Regions from separate parts of the Homo sapiens genome. Here region 1 is linked to region 2. The links come from fine-mapping of genetic effects on gene expression. A gene starts in region 2. The other region holds a variant in brackets. All regions are shown on one strand. Distances are from middle to middle.

The links.
Region 1: its variant is fine-mapped to the expression of PXYLP1 in whole blood (TOPMed, PIP above 0.99).

The regions. Positions count from the first base shown.
Region 1 is chr3:141,283,913-141,289,284 of GRCh38, forward strand. PXYLP1 (2-phosphoxylose phosphatase 1) reads left to right here. Exons shown (of 6, transcript NM_001037172.3): 5 at 3,402-3,541. Among named protein-coding and RNA genes, the nearest start is that of PXYLP1, 55 kb to the left of the region's middle. The variant G/A (reference allele first, on the strand shown) is at 3,113.
Region 2 is chr3:141,229,387-141,234,758 of GRCh38, forward strand. PXYLP1 (2-phosphoxylose phosphatase 1) reads left to right here and starts at 2,439. Exons shown (of 6, transcript NM_001037172.3): 1 at 2,439-2,525. RefSeq lists a silencer at 2,178-2,557.

The DNA of each region.
Region 1 (5,372 bases), 55 kb after region 2:
TGAAGATAAGGACTCCAAAGTGAATGACTTGAAGGCTTAAGATAGTAACACTTTTGATTATTTCAGTTTTCATTATGAAAGCAGATTTTCAATGAGCCCACAATAATATGAGTTTTTCCTAAAGAAAAATTTATTTTCATGGATATAATTATGTCTGCATTAGTCAGGGTACACCTATTTTGTAAGTTTATTTTGTAGCACAGGGACTCATGAATGCATTACCTTAAATAACAAGGAAGTTTAGCTCTTCCTCATGTGAAGGTCTGAAATGTGTGTTCCAGATTGTGCTAGTCAGCTCCACCTGGTCATTCAGGGCCCCAGGTTTCTTCCAGGTTGTTGTTTCTACCATCCCCTGGGGATGGCTACATGGTTGAACCCTGGTTGCTGCCATGCCTAAATAATGGCTGGAAGGAAGGAAGATAATGTGAACCGGGCATACACATGATCAGAAAGCCTGAACCCAGAAGTGGCATACATCTTTCCGTTCTGTTGGCGAATGCGGCTTTACCTCATTTCAGGACCTCAGAAATAGGATCTAACCAAGTTCTTAAGAAGAGAATAGATTTTAGTGTACGACTAGTACACTAGTCTCATCCACACTAGCCTTTAGTTTTAATACAGTCATCCATAGAGGATTGGTTCCAGGATCCTCCTTGGATACCAGAATCTGAGATGCTCAAGTCCCTTATGTAAAATGGTGTTGTATTTACACAGAACCTGCGCACATTCTCCCATGTACTTTACATCATCTCTAGATTACTTATAACGCCAAACACAATGTAAATGCTGTGTAAATAGTTGTTATTTGTATTATTTTTATTGTTGTATTGTTATTTCTTATTGGGTTTTTTCCAAGTATTTTTGGATCCACAGTTGAATCTTCCAATGCAGAATCTGAAGAGATGGAGGGCCGACTATATTTTCATCAAAATCTGAATATTTTAACAAACCGTATGGGAACTTATCGTATTCATTTCTACAGATTATGGAAGGCTTGCTATTTTCATGAAACATCCAAGGATGGGACACTTCACAGTTGAATTCACTCACATATATTTTTAGAGCATCTGCTATGTGCTAAGCACCCTCTGGGCTCCAGGGATGGAGCAGTGGACCAGGCAGACAAGGCCTGGGTAGTCAGATCCAGGTCCAGGACTCGAGTTACCTGGTCTGCTTTCCACTAAAAAGATACAGCCATTTGTTGTCAAATGTTTTTTTTCTTTTTCTTTTTCTTTTTTTTTTTTTTTTTTTTGAGACAGGGTATCTCTTTGTCACCCAGGCTAGAGTACAGTAGTACAATCACAGCTCACTGCAGCCTCGACCTCCTGGACTCATGTGATCCTCCTGCTTTAGCCTCCTGAGTGGCTGAGACTATAGGCCTGCGCCACCATGCCTGGCTAGTTTTTGTATTTTTTGTAGAGACATGGTCTCACTATGTTGGCCAGTCTCAAACTCCTGGCCCCAAGCAGTCCTCCCACCTCGGCCTCCCAAAATGCTGGGATTACAGGCATGAGCCACCATGCCCGGCCTGTTAGCTATTCTTTAAATGAAGTTTTTCTTCCACAAATCTTCATCTTTGCATGCCAAAAACAAACAACACAACAACAACAACAAAAAAAAACAAAAATAAAAAACATTGGAATGAATGCAGTTAGATATCATTAAGCAGTCAGATGCCCTGAAAACCTGGGTCACCTCAGCAAACACTTCCAGTCATGAAATTCCATTTCTAAAATTGGCAGCAAAGCTTTCTCAGATCCTCAAAAAAAGCTCCAACCTGAAATAATGGCCTGGTGCAGAACATTTGACTCCTGTTGATGGATAGCCTTTGTTTATGTGGATTACTCTTGGCAGCCTCATTGTCAGTCTGGACATTTTATTTCCCAGTTTGCAAACATTTATGTGCTTTAGCCTCAGGCAAAATAACGTACCCTGTTTTTGTGGAAAGGCATAACTCCCTTTAGCTATCCAGGGTGATTTATTAGACTATATTACATGTCTGGATTAGTATTCTCTAATTTAAAAACGTATTTTTAAAAGATGGATTTTTTTTTTAGCTTTATGTTGTTGATAGATAATAAACCCATTTTGGCAGCCATTTTTAAAGCACTTTCAAAGTTAACTGGGCCTTCAGACAGCAGGGGTTTGCCATTAGAACAGTTTATCTTTGCTTCTTTTCATGCTGATTCTTATAGAGTTTAGGCATGAACTACTCTATCTGTCCACTTCTCTTCAGCTGGAAAATGTATATACATTCATAGGCTACTTCATTATTCAAAGAAAAGATGTTTATATTCATAGGTCATTTCATTATTCAGGGTAATTGTATATTAGTGACTAGAAAGATTTACCACATATACTTTGTGGCAGAAATATAGATACTCTCAGATCTCATATATAAACTTTTTTTGACATTTATTATTACCCTATATTAAATGAGAGGTTGTATGTCCAAAACGTGGAGTGGATTGTAAAGAGGTATAGAGATCCTGGTTATCTTATTCAGTTAACAATTTTCCTAAAGGGGGATTTTTCAGAGGTCAGAAAAATTAAGGATTATGGGTGACCTTGATAAAGGATAGGGTAGATTTTCTAGGAGGAAGGGATAGCTCGTGGGAAGTGGTGGAAGTGTTGAAGAATGAGGTGCGTTGTGTGTTGGAGGAAAGAAGGCCTTTGGCTTGGCGTGGCCAGAGCACAGTATTAGGGTAGAGAGGGCCAGTGAGTACCAGGGCGAGGCCAGAATAGAGGGACAGGCTGTGTGTGGCCCCTTCCAGAAGGTGGTGATAGGGAAGGGCAGTGACTGGTCAGAGTTACCTTTTAAATCAATCCTTCTGGTGGTGGAGAAGGCAAGATTATTAGAGGGGCATGCTTAATCAGCAAGAAGACCAATAAAGAGCCCATTGCCAGCCAGACAAAAGCTGCCTGAGGCCAGAACCTAGGTAGTAGCTGTGAGGATGAAGGAGAAGGGGATGGAGAAGCACCAGGAGAAAGAATCTGCAAGACATGGGGAGCAGACAGCATGTGCAGGGGCAGGGAATGGAGAGAGTGGGACGATGCCCAGCCTAGGCGTGACTGCTGGGTGGGTGTTGGCGGCCTCCCGGAGAGCGAGCCC[G/A]GAAGGCAGCACAGGTTGGGGAGCCGGAAGATAGACGGCGAAGCTGAATCCCACAGTACTGAGTTCAGCAGAGGTTAGGAACTCTGGCCAACCTCACAGAGGGGATTTCATGTGTCAGTGTCAGTGGTCGAGAAATAATGAAATTGGAACTGAAAAGTGATTGAGCCGGTACCTGTTACTGTGGGTGCAAAAGGCTGCGATACACGTGGGATTTGGCTCGCTGAAGCTGGAAACTGTTTGGATTCTTGTGGAGCACTCTGACCTCTAACTCTCTCTATCATCTCTCTAGGAAACCGTATCACCCAAAACTGGAAGCTTTCATTAGTCACATGTCAAAAGGATCCGGAGCCTCTTTCGAAAGCCCCTTGAACTCCTTGCCTCTTTACCCAAATCACCCATTGTGTGAGATGGGAGAGCTCACACAGACAGGTATGTGTGACCCCCATGCGCTCAGGGGTTCCCCCACCCGCTCTTCTGCTTGCATACCTTCCGAGCAGTTCTCCTGGGCGGGGTGCTGTGCAGCTCAGAGGGGGTAAGCAAGGACTGGCTCTGCAAGGAGCTCGGTCACCAGGGCCTCTAAATAAACATCAGAGTTCTCAAAACTAAATAGAACCTTTCTCCTTCTTACAAAAACAATACGTGTTCATGAAAATAATTTAGGAAAGACAAGTAAAAAGAAGAAAAAGTTTAAGCAACCGTAATTCCACCACAGAAATAGACCCTTAAGAGTAACCCTTCTTCCTGTGCTTATGCACACACACACATCTTACTAAACACACTATTTCATAACCCACTTTTCCACTCAACAACACATTTTGTTAATATTTCCCTATGAATAACTGTTTATCCACTACATCATTTATGATAGCGCCATATTCTTTCACTCTGGATGGGCAATTGATCATTTATTTAACTAATCTCATGTTCTCAGATATTTCTAACAAAACTTCTAATAGGTTTTCATGTACAAGATCTCAGGGAGGAAAATGCATGGCACATTTCTACTGCATGTGGAGTTTGTTTGGCTGAGCTGAGTTCTCACAGAAGCACAGCTTTCCCTCCGCAGCCCTAGTCAGACCATGTGCAGTCAGTTCACCATCAGGGTAGGTTGGTGAGTTAACTGTGGAGTCACCTTTGCTGGGAATAGAGGAACAGGTGGTCCTTCAAGAGGTTTCAGTTTTCTGATTCTTCAATCTGGAACCTCAGAGGACCTTTGCCTGGTCACCAGCCTTTATGGGTGAATTGGGAAGACCCATTGGCCATGTTCTGTCTTCATCTTGCATCAGCATCTTAGGACTTCAGCAGGGATGGAGGGAAGGTCTCCATCCTATAGTAGGCCCTCTTAGGTTTTGCCATTATTATTGGGGAAATGATATTGGATAGACAGAGTGGAACAAGCTGAAGCCTCTGGAGGACTAGCCGTGGATAAGGAGTTGTGTCAAAAGCCTTTGGCAATTAGTTCCACATGCATTACTTTAGAACGAGGGTTTTCATCCTAGCAGATCCAACACCCCCTTTGATTACACAATTAACTATTTTGCAATCTCCCTCAACTATCATGAAGTGAAATTTAAATATAATGTAACCAGCCAGGCATGGTGCCTCATGCCTGTAATCCCAGCACTTTGGGAGGCTGAGGCAGGATAATCGTTTGAGCCTGAGGGTTCGAGAGCAGTCTGAGCAACATAGTGGAACCCCATCTCTACAAACAATTTTTTAAAATTAGCCAAGTGTGGTGGCATGTGCCTGTAGTCCCAGCTACTCAGGTGGCTGAGGCGGGAGGACCACTTGAGCCCGGGAGGTCAAGGCTGCAGTGAACCATGATCATGCCACTGCACTCCAGCCTGAGTGACAAAGTGAGGCCCTGTCTCAATGAATGAATGAATGAATGAATGTAATCTTTCTATGCAGTTAATTACTTAAAAGTTATACCAGGGTCCCCAGCGATAACAAATGAAAAGAAACTAATTTACTACCTAATTATATGTGTCTCTGTATAAATGCTTAAGAACAGCTACACTAGAAAATAGAATGAAATCTTCAAATGCTTGTACCTAAATGTGACTCTGACAACTACAAATGCAGATGATTGATGGATGCTGTATTGTTGACTCTTAATACCACATGTCAGGACATGGTTTTTCTGAAGTTCTGATCAAAACAAAATATAGATGTTCCTTAGTTTATATTGTATTTCTGGAAAATTCAGTGAACATTAATATTATACAAAAATGGTTTTGTGTTCTAGACACAAAAACAG
Region 2 (5,372 bases):
CACGGAGGAAAGAGATTTAGTGGGAGTAATGGTCTTGAGATGCTTCCTCATATCTATTTTCCCTGTAGGAAGCTTTTCTTTTTTCTTCCCTATAGCCCCTTTCTCCATTAAGGCTCGGTGGGTACCACTCAGAACCCAGAGTCCACAGGGGGAGGAGATGCCTCCTCTAGAATGGAAGGTAGCATAGACATCCTCAGGGAATCGGGAAGGTGAGGTAAAGAAACAGGATGTGAGTCTAGGGAGTGTATGATGCCTGATTCCATGAGGGCCTGAGGCTATCCCTATACCAAGTGTGGACCTAGGGAAGGGGGTGGTACAAAGACACAGATCTCAGATAGGTTAAGGAGGAAGCTGAAAGCAGAAAGGGCCTGTGTCCTATCTCCAGGCTGAGACTCTGCCCCCACAGTATGCCCTGCGCTGTCAAGCAAAGCGCTGGTGTGGCAAATTTTGCAGAGAAATGGCTAGAGATGGTGCCCTGAGTTACCTTTAGTCCCCTTGTGACAGAGAAGGGATCCAAGAGTGCCTACATGCTCCCTGCTGAGGGTGATAGTGTGTCCACGAGTGAACCCACCTGCCATGGAGTCACAGAGGCTGAGAGCACAGCATGGACATGTGGCCCAATCCTGCAAACAAAGCCAGGTCCAAGGCTAGTTGCAATGGCTGGCAGAGAAGCTGATTTTCTGCTAGAACTAGAGCTGTGAGGCTGTGAGCCTGGATCTGCCAGGGTCTCATGTGCGCATGAAAGCGTAGTTCATGTGGAAGACAGCAAAACTGAGACGGGGAGTCCCTGAGACCCTGGGACTAAAGCCAGGCCTGAAGCAGACAGGCTCTTCATGTACACAGCGGATCAACCCTTTGTGATTTAAGTTAGTGTGAATTGGGTTGTCTTTTACAGCAGAAAGCACCTTGACTAACCCATGTAGAGAAGAGGGTGACAGTGTGAGCTAAGCAGTAGAGCCTGCAATCCGTGAGAGGACAATCAGAAGGGGCAGAGGAGACATTGTTGGGCGGGCTGCGGTGGGCTTCTGTGGGGGCCAGGTGGGAGAGTTGGGGGTGATGCCAAAGGGGACAGTGAAAAGATTTTGTGCTCATGGATTGGGAGAGGCTGTCAGTATTCAGGGCAGAAAAAAGGCCCGGGATAGCGCTGCATCGGGGGAATACCAGAGGCGGACAGGCAGCAAAGTCCGGTACTGACGAGCCATTAAGGCACCTGATGAAGAAGGCATGACAGGTGGCTGAGAGAATGGCGAGACCACGGGGATAAATGGAGTTGGGAGCTTGGAAGAGGTAAAATTTAGTGCCAGACGTGGTAACTTGAGGAGGAAAGTTCTAAGAAAAAAACCGGAGGGTAGGGGGAAATATGGCTAACATATCTGAGCCAAGTGTGTGGATTTGAGAGCCATCAATCAAGGAGAGAAAGCAGAAGTCAAGGGATGAGATCCTCCCAAAGGTGCACCTCAAAGGTATATAGTAGCAAATTCGAATCCGTATCTATTTTGCCTGAGGCTAGTTGTGCTAGGACACACAGGGTTGCTGTAGACCTCGAGCTGACAGCAAAGACCTCTCTGATAATCGCTGTTGGTCGTTTCATCTCCCACAGAGAAATCTGGTGGAAATCTCCACCAGCTGGAACCTAACATTTGCAATAAATGACCCACAAATACTGATCAAACCAAATACAACCGTTCGCCTATCAGATGTCTAACGGGGCGTTACAGGCAGCCCTCAAGTGCTCTGAGGATCTTCAGCAGCGGCTCCAAGGAAGCCGCGGGCCGGGAGCAGGTGGGAAGGGCGACTGCGCGGGGCCACGACCTCCCCGGGTCTCTGCAGACCGTTGGAGACGGAGCAGCAGCGAGGACTAGAGCAACACAAGGCCGGATGTGTTCTGAGCCGGAAGAGGAGTGTGGGATAGGCCGAAAGGGGTGGGGGGTGGGGGGTGACAGTTTGGGTCTACGTGGCAGCAGGCGCACCCCAGACGCGCGCGCCCACCCGGCGATAGCATCAGCGGCGCCAGGGCAGGCACATGGCCCCAAAGCACCCACACTAGGGCCCGGGCCGGCCAGGGCTGTGTTCCTGGGCCTTGGCGCGCCTCCGCGCAGTCCCTGATCGCAGGTCAGGAGTTGTGAGGCACGCGAGAGCCCTGCGCGTCTGTGGTCGTGGTCCCTGCGCGCTCGGCTTGTCCGTGCCCGTGGCTTTGCACGCCGAGGGCTCTGCAGACTGACCAGTCTCTCCGGGCTGTGCTGGGCCTCCCAGAGGCAGTGTCCTCTCAGCAACCCCGCGCGGTCGCCCCCGCCCAGCCGCACCGCAACACCGCCTCCGGGGCGGAGCTCCAGGGCTCCTGGTGCAGGGCCGGCCGAACTGAGACGGGGCGCGGCGGGGTCGGCAGGGGGCGCTGCCGGGCCCCGCGAGCTCCCCGGTGGCGGGTGCGCGCCGCCCTCGCCTCCCCTCGCGCCGGGAGGAGCTGGCGGCGAGCGCCGAGCCGGGCGCGCAGCGACGGAGCTGGGGCCGGCCTGGGACCATGGGCGGTGAGTGCGGCGCGGGCCTGGGCCGGGGCGGTTGCCGTTGGGGCCGAGCAGCGCAGAGGTTCTAGGCGGGTGGGCGTCCAGGGTCCGAGGTTGGGAGACTGAGGGGGTCCCCCTAACTCGCCAGTGGGAGAGGGGCGGGAAGGCTGGGGGCGCTTCGAAGCGTCGGGTCCGAATCCCGCGACTAAGCCTCCTCCTTTATCCCCGCGCTCGCCCCTGAGCCTAGGACTTGCGCCCTCTTTCCTGCCACTCCCCCCGTGCGCCCGGTGTCCCAGCCCCGGCGCCCGCCCCATAGCCCCCTTCTCCCAGAGCTGGCGCCGTCTCACGCCCGCTGCGAACCCCCGGCTCTGTCTCCAAGCCCTCGCCCCCCGCAGCCCCGCACTCTCCCGCGGAGCCCGCCTCCACCTCGCCCCCGCCCTTCCAGCCCTCTCCCGCACGGCCCCCGCACTCCCGCCGCTGGATTCCAGCCGAGATTCAAGCTCCCGGGATCCCCCTTCCCGGGCGGTCCTGAGCCGGCTAGTCTCCAGGTAAGGAGGCGGCCGCAACTTCGCGGCCTTTCCCGGAGACGGGGCTGGCTCCTCTTGGCAGCCACCTGCAGCCTGACGCCTCCGGGAGTCCCGGGCCTGGCCACGGGGCCGCCCGAGCGCAGGTTAACATTCCTGGATGCGCAGGTTAGGACCGTGTGGTGTAGACCCACGACGTTGCTTTTGCTGGTGAACTTGCCTATGTCCTGATCTTTTAAATAAGCTGGGTTTGTCACACACACACACACAGAGAGAGAGAGAATGGATTTGCTTAGGGTAGGTTGCCTGCTTTGCAGCCGCAGCTGCCTTTTAAATTGTACCTGTGGATGGTAAAGGATTCACGGTGCAGGACGTGGAGCCATATTTTCCCGCTTCGGCTGTGAGTTCAGCGATTGCGAGGGGGCTCTGTAGTGAGTGAGGTTATCACCGCCTGGCTAGCCAGTGTCTTTGTGGAAAGGCAAGGATCCTTTGTAAGCATTCAACAAGTAAAATCAGGAGAGATGGGGAATCAGATCGAGCTGTGAATGGGGAAGTGTAGGGGGGTGGATGGGGGATCGGAGAGTGCTCCACAAATGGAGCCGTTTGTTGATATTTGCAGAAGGCCCGTGGGTGTGAAGCTGGCAGTGCGGAGCCCACCCTTTCAAACGGGATGCGACTGCGGTCGGGCTTGGCAGTAACTTACCCTCCTCAGAGGTGTTGGTGCCCAATCGGGACATCTGTGGGAAGGGGATTTATAGCAGATGGATCAAAAGGCCTCGGGCGCGGTGGCTCACGCCTGTAATCCCAGCACTTTGGGAGGCCGAGGCGGGCGGATCACCAGAGGTCGGGAGTTCGAGACTAGCCTGACCAACATAAAAACCCCGTCTCTACTAAAAATACAAAATTAGCCAGGCGTGGTGGTGCATACCTGTAATCCCAGCTACTCAGGAGGCTGAGACAGGAGAATCGCTTGCACCTGGGAGGCAGAGGTTGCAGTGAGCTGAGATTGCGCCATTGCACTCCAGCTTGGGCAATAAGAGCAAAACCCTGTCAAAAAAAAAAAAAAAAAAAAAACCCTCGTGGTCCCTGGAGAGAGGTGAAGATGCACGGGACAGCCTGAAAGCCAGTGTATGAATCTGCCCCATCCCTTCTCCTGGCTTTCATTAAGTCTTGGATTAAATTAATTGCTTATCTCAGAGAAAGGATGTGTAGGGGGAACTTCTCTGTTAGGGATTGGCTCCTGGCCAGCCCATCCTCACTGATGCCTTGGGAGGCTGCGTTTGGGCACCAGGAACAGCGTGGGCCACCTGGCCTTTGGAGCACAGCACTCCGAGTGTTTGTGGAACTGCAGTATCTGTAACTCTTTTTTCTATTGATCAGCTTGAATAGTTAGCTCAATATTACTTCACTATTGATTAGATAAGTAGCCCAAGGACATACTGGGGCTCAGTAGGGTCTCTCTGTCCAGAAATTCCCGTGGGCTTCTCCTTGGCCCTCCCTACACCGCTCTGTGATGAGTCGCTGTCAGATGCCCCACTGTGCAGGAGCATCTTCAGGGATGGGTGGAAGGAACCACCTCTGTGGCCCCAGGTCCCTGCCTGGTCCCCCCTGTCTACCACATAGGGGTACTCAGTGTTTGTGAGGAAAAAAAATGGATGCCCCGGTGAATTAGTCTGAGTTCACAACCAATGTTTTCTACACTTTGCTACACTGTTCAAAATGTTACCCTTAAATTCAACAGTTTTTTTTTTTTAATGTGTCATATCACCAGAGACAAACTCATTTTTGTGTGTGTTTGGAGCAGTGAGTGCAATCTACGGATCAGTCTCTGATGGTGGGTCGTTAACCTCAGTGGGGACTCCAAGATTTCCATGAAGAAAATCAGTTGTCTTCATTCAAGAATTGGGGTAGGTGGTGGTGGGCGCCCTTGGAAGCTACTAAGTTTGTCTGCTGAGGGTTGAGTCCACCATAGCTTAACCTATAGTGCCCAGAGCTGTAGCCCCAGTCCCCTTTAACATTTCCTATCCCTGCCCACTGACGGAGGAAGCTCCCAGGGAGACAGGGTACCACTTGCAGAGCCCCACTGGCCACTTCAGATTGCACCATCCCCACTCCAGTGGGTGTTGCTTCCTGTGGCGAGCTGGGAGTGCCTCTTCTTGCACATTTCTGGCACTGTGGCTTGCAGCTCTATTGGTGGGAGGGAGGTTGGTGTTTTGGGCCAGTGCTTTGGTCTCTTGGAGGTGGCTATAACCCACTGGCAGATGGGGCAAGGTCCAGCTCTTGTGCCTCTGTCAAAGGCCACCCCCAGGCAGTACAGCCAAATGCTGAGGGGGTGGGAACACCTCAT